2 separate regions of the Homo sapiens genome follow, and region 2 is linked to region 1. The links come from fine-mapping of genetic effects on gene expression. A gene starts in region 1. The other region holds a variant in brackets. All regions are shown on one strand. Distances are from middle to middle.

What was found. PIP is the estimated chance that this variant, and not a neighbour inherited with it, causes the effect. A credible set is the group of variants that fine-mapping cannot tell apart.
Region 2: its variant is the best candidate, but not a certain one, in a credible set for the expression of COX11 in whole blood (INTERVAL, PIP 0.84).

The regions. Positions count from the first base shown.
Region 1 is chr17:54,967,318-54,970,237 of GRCh38, reverse strand. It overlaps COX11 (cytochrome c oxidase copper chaperone COX11), which reads left to right and starts at 1,584. Exons shown (of 4, transcript NM_004375.5): 1 at 1,584-1,957. The coding sequence starts at 1,592. It overlaps STXBP4 (syntaxin binding protein 4), which reads right to left and starts at 1,473. Exons shown (of 18, transcript NM_178509.6): 1 at 1,423-1,473. RefSeq lists enhancers at 1,156-1,205, 1,286-1,385, 616-1,564, 1,566-1,645, 1,656-1,715 and 1 more.
Region 2 is chr17:54,942,296-54,945,215 of GRCh38, reverse strand. All of the region lies in intron 11 of TOM1L1 (target of myb1 like 1 membrane trafficking protein), which reads right to left. Among named protein-coding and RNA genes, the nearest start is that of COX11, 25 kb to the left of the region's middle. The variant C/ACACC (reference allele first, on the strand shown) is at 1,775.

The DNA of each region.
Region 1 (2,920 bases):
TTAGAATAAAATCCAAACCCTTGGACATGGCTTAAAAGGCTGGTATTACCAGGCCTTTGTTACCTGTTCTGACCCCATTTCCTACCACTTTCCACTCTGCTATGTTGGGAACACAGTGGCCTTCTTTCTGTTCTTCAATCATTCTATCTCTTTCCTTCCCCTGGGCCTTTGCTTGGCCTGGAATTGTTATTGAGTAGGTAGCTCCTTATCATCGTTCAGATCTAAACTCAAATGTCACCTCTTCAAAACGTCCTTACTTTACTACCGCTTCTCATGACTGTCAATCATACTATGTTATTACATTGTCTTCACTGCACTGATTGTTATCTGAAATTCCCTTATTTCGGTAACTGTTACTTGATTATTTTCTGAGTCCCTCAGCAGAAAGGACACTCCATCACTGAAGTGATCTCCCGACTTGTTCTGTGCTATAGTGCCAGCAGGTCGATTGGTGTCAGGCCCACAGTTGAGAGGGCAATAAATAAATAAAATGTCGAATGACTAGTTAAAATTTCTCAGGCCTCCAAGTTCCTCATCCACATAGTGGGGATAATTATACCTGCTCTGGCCATTAGAAATGGCCACGTAGCAAGTAGAAATACAGCCTAACTTTTAACTACATTCTTACTATGCCTCAGTCATCATGAAAGACGTTATATGAATATTATTCATTTACTGTTCTGATTTCCATTTTACAAGTAAGGACACCAGGTCTTAGAGGACAAGTAACTGACCTAAGGGCACAGGGCCATGGTGAGGACCCGGGTAAAAATCCAGAACCCCCTAACCTCAGAACCTGAGCTCTTAACTGCTATTTTATAGTTTCTAGAAAGATGCTTCCTTCTAACACAGTAAAATCCGCTATGCTGTCTGCCCCCCTCGAGTTCGTCCTGTGGGACAACTGAAGAAAGCTATTACATCCTCCCACGGGGTTCGTTTCTTTCAGTCTCTCCTTAAATGGCCCTCCTATCCTGGTCACTCTCTCCAGAACAAACTTCAGCGTGACAGCCTCCCTCCTGCTCCAGCTGTGGTGCTTTCCACTGGGCAAGTTGTAAGGGGCATCAGAGCAGGGGAAGCCGACTGCCCACGGGCTGAGAAAATGCAGGTGTCGTGGGTGCCCATGAGGGCTGCGGTTAACACAGCAAGGCTTCCTGAGAGAGGTGATACTTGAACTAAGTCCAGGGCAGTGAGCACAGGAGCCAGCGGCCAAGGGACCCCAGGAGAAAAGACCGCGGGAGAGCGTCGCCGGGGCTGCCGGGTCGAGACAAAGGCTGGTGGAGTTTAAATAAAGATCACAGGCGCAACCCCAAGTGATGGCAAGCTTGCACGCGGACGGGCGAAACGCATTTTCCTAAATGTTAAGAGACGTTCTGGCGAGAAGCGAAGTGGGAGTAACAGTCACAAAGCAAAACGCAAACTTACCCGTAATCTGGCAACCCGGCCTCCGTAGCCCGACTGCAAGCGCTGCCACCTGAGGAGCCTGGTAGCCAAGGCAGCGGCAGGCTCAACCCAGATCTCGCGAGACGGAGCACGCCTCGCGAGATTTGACCTCTCGTCCCTGAGAGGCGGGTGGGTGTTAGTTCAGAGGGTTATGGGAGGGCTCTGGCGTCCTGGATGGAGGTGCGTTCCTTTCTGTGGCTGGCGCTGGATCCACCCTGGGTCTCCAACCAGGGCTGCAGAGAGGGTAGAGCCGTTTCTTAGGCCAGAGTGGAGTGGGACAGGAGGTGCCGAGAGAGGACTGAGGTGGCTTGGGACATGGAAGCGCTGCAGCCTTCGAGCCCGGCATCCAGCATTGCAGCCGCCGCGGCGGCCTAAGAGCTCGAACCCTTTCACACGCGCGCAGGAGGAGGAGCGGCGGCGGCAGAACAAGACGACCCTCACTTACGTGGCCGCTGTCGCCGTGGGCATGCTGGGGGCGTCCTACGCTGCCGTACCCCTTTATCGGCTCTATTGCCAGGTAGGGGCCGGCGCCGCCCGCAGGGTGGCGCAGACGCGAGAGGTGGGGGTGCAAGACAAATCCCGGGACAAGCCCTCGCTCTGCGGGTCGTAGGTGGAAGAGGTTTCCGATATTATCTACCTAAGAGGAGAGAGGTTCAAAACAGTCACTTAACACCCAAAGTCACCAAAGAAATTGGTGACAAAACTGCAAGTAGCATCCAGTTCTTAGTGATTGTGCTTATACCATGCTGCAGAGTGAAACCCCTGATCTATGAACTGCACCTCGCCAAAAAAAAAAAAAAAGGTCCGCAGCCTCTAACCGGGTATCTAGCAGTCTGCCTTACCCTCCTGCGCACACACGCTTTTAAAATGTATTATTCATACATTCACTCTGCAAACCACATGTGGTTTATGTGCCAAGGGTAACTCTGGAAATTGGACTACTCGTGTTTCTTGGGCTTAAACTGGGATTAGCAGTTCCTCCGTACAAAGAGGCATGAATTAGGCCTTTGAGGCTCTCTCGCCCCACCCCTGTTAATATATAACTGTAATGTACTTAACCTGGAAACTGTTAAGTACATTGCAACGGTTCTGGGAGTGTGGCGCCCAGGACCGGCAGCATCAGCATCACCCGGGAACCTGTTAAAAGTGCAAATTCTAGGGCCCGACTCCAGGACTGAGTCAGAAACACGGGGTGGGGGGGTGGGGCGGGGAGAAGAAGGGGAGTGGGACCAGCACTCTATATTTTAGTTAAGTCCTGTAGTTGATTTTGAGGGCAAGTTTTGAGAACCACAGGCAAAGACAAGTTTCACGTATTTTAGAGATTTCTCCTTTGTTCTTAGCTAATAATTTGCAGCTTTGGCTGGCCATTAGGATCACCTATGGAGCTTAACGTTAAATACACGTTCCAGGGATCCCCTACCCCAGAGATTCTGGTTAGGAAGTCTAGGGTAGGGACAGGAATTTCGGTTTAAAAATCATG
Region 2 (2,920 bases), 25 kb after region 1:
CAATGACAAATCACCTTAGAAAGGCAGAGGGAGATTTGGGACACATACAGGAAAAAGCCAGGTGAAGGTACAGGCAAGAATTGGAGTGACATGACCAAAAGCTAAGAAATCCAAGGAGTACCCACAAGTCATTGGAATCTGGAAGAGGCAGGGAACAGATGTCCCCGTAATAGTTGTGGAGGGAGTGTGACTCTGCTGAATTTCAGACCTCTTGCCTCCAGAACTGTGAGATAATAAATTTCTGTGGTTTTAAACCACCCAGTTTGCAGTCATTTGTTATGACAGCCCCAGGAAACTAATACATTCAGCCAACCCCCAAGAGAAAGAAACAAAAGAAATCCATACCCCACATATTGTAATCAAACTGTTCAAAATTGGATAAAAAGAAAAATTATTTAAAGCAGACAGAACCACAATACATTATCTATAGAAGAACTGCAACTCCGATGAATGTAGATTTTTCACTAGAAACCATTTAGGCTAGAAAGAGTGGCACAGCCTTTTAAAACTGCTGAAAGAATAGAAGCATGAGCCCCATATTCTGTAGTCACTGATAATATCCTTCAGGAACAGACAAAATAGAGGCATTCTCACATGAAGTAAAACTAAGAGACTTCACTGTCAATAGACCTGCTTTAAAAGAACTGATAAAGAAAATTCTTCAGAGAGAAGGGAAATTATACCAGAAGAGAATAGTAAGAGAAATGGTAAACATTGGGTAAATATAATAGACTATTTTTCTCTTCTTGAATTTTTTTTTTTTTTTGAGATAGAGTCTTGCTGTGTCGCCCAGGCTGGAGTGCAGTGGCACGATCTTGGCTCACTGCAACCTCCGCCTCCTGGGTTCAGTCAATTCTCATGCCTCAGCCTCCCGAGTAGCTGGGATTACAGATGCGCACCACCACGCCCGGCTAATTTTTTCTATTTTTTGGTAGAGATGGGGTTTCACCATTTTGGCCACGCTGGTCTCAAACTCCTGGCCTCAAGTGATCCACCCACCTCGTCCTCCCAAAGTGTTGGGATTACAGGCATGAGCCACCACGCCCGGCCACTTCTTGAATTCTTTGCAATATATCTCAGGGTTGTAAGCAAAAATTACAGCATCATCTGTTAGTGGTTTCTTTTCAATGTATAGAGGAGTAATATATAAGATAACTATTATAGAAAAGGGGAATCTATATGGTGATAAGGTTTTTACTTCCTTTTATTTATTTATGTATTTATTTATTTATTTATTTGAGACAGAGTCTCTTTCTGTCACTCAGGCTGGAGTGCAGTGGCTGTAATCTCGGCTCACTGCAACCTCCGCCTCCCGGGTTCAAGTGATTCCCCTGCCTTAGTCTCTGAGTAGCTGGGATTACAGGTGCCTGCCACCACGCCCAGCTAATTTTTTGTATTTGTAGTAGAGACAGGGTTTCACCGTATTAGCTAGGATGGTCTCGATCTCCTGATCTCATGATCTGCCCGCCTCAGCCTCCCAAAATGCTGGGATTACAGGTGTGAGCCACTGCGCCCGGCCCAGGTTTTTACTTTCAAGTAGTAAAGCATTGATTTTAGGTAGACTGAAAAATAAGTATACTGCAATCACTAAAGCAAACTCTCTTTATATATATGTGTGTGTGTACATGTATATATAAACATATATACATATATATATTTTGCTAACAAAATTAGCAAAATAACAGGAAAAGAATCAGCTACTTTAAACCACATTATTTACCAAGCAACTTTATTTCACACACACACACACACACACACACACACACACACACAC[C/ACACC]ATTATACAAAGATACAGTCAAAATCACAATAAACTAAAATGGAGCACTAAAAATATTCTAATAATCCAAAAGAAAGCAGGAAAAAGGAAACAGAAAAAAAGGAACACATAGAATAACTATATAACAGTAGACCTAAACTCTACATACAATTAAATTAAATGTAAATTGCCTAACATATCAATTAAAAGAGATTATGAGAATATATAAAAATGCATGAACCAACTATAGGCTATTTCTAAGAAACTCCTAATCTTTTAGTACAGTTAAGTTACAAGTAAAATGCAGAAGAAAATATACCAGGCAACCACTAAACAAAAGAAAGCTAGAGTGGCTATATTACTATCAAAATCAACATCAGGACAAAGAAAATTATGAGGGACAAAGAAGGACATTACATAATGATAAAAGACTCAATCAACCAATAAGATCCAACATAGCCGAATGCATGAGCTTCAAAACACATAAAGCAAATACCAACTTAATACAATCTCTTCTAGAAAGATGATATATTGTATAATTCTACTTGAATGACATTCTCAAAGACAAACTATAGCAATAGAGAATAAACTCCTGGCTGCTGGGGATTGAGGGTCAGGGGTACAAGGGTGTGACTATAAAGGAATAGCACACGGCAGTTTTGCTGAGTGACGGAACTATTCTGTATCCTGACTGGGGGTAGTTATTTGAATCTATACGTATGTTAAAATAAATAAAACTGTACACCAAACCAAAACAAAAAAGGTCAATTTTAGTATATGAAAATTTTAGAAATAAAATTAAAGTACAAAACTAAAAACAAAAAGAGAGAAGTTACTGAAATCAGAATTTGATTTTGAATCCCATTTAAATTTGAATCCTGTCTCAGTACTAGCTGGACAACCACTGGCAAGTTAATCTTCCTCAGCCTTGGTTTCCTCTTGTTTAAAATGAAAATGATGGTGGCACATACCTCATAGGTTAAGTAATTAGTAAGCATTTCTATACTTCTTAGCTTGTTGCCTGTTAGTAAATGGGTCATAAATATGGCCTATGAGCCGGGCACAGTGGCTCATGCCTGTAATCCCAGCACTTCAGGAAGCCGAGGTGGGCAGATCACCGTAGGTCAGGAGTTTGAGACCACAGCCTGGCCAACATGGTAAAACCAG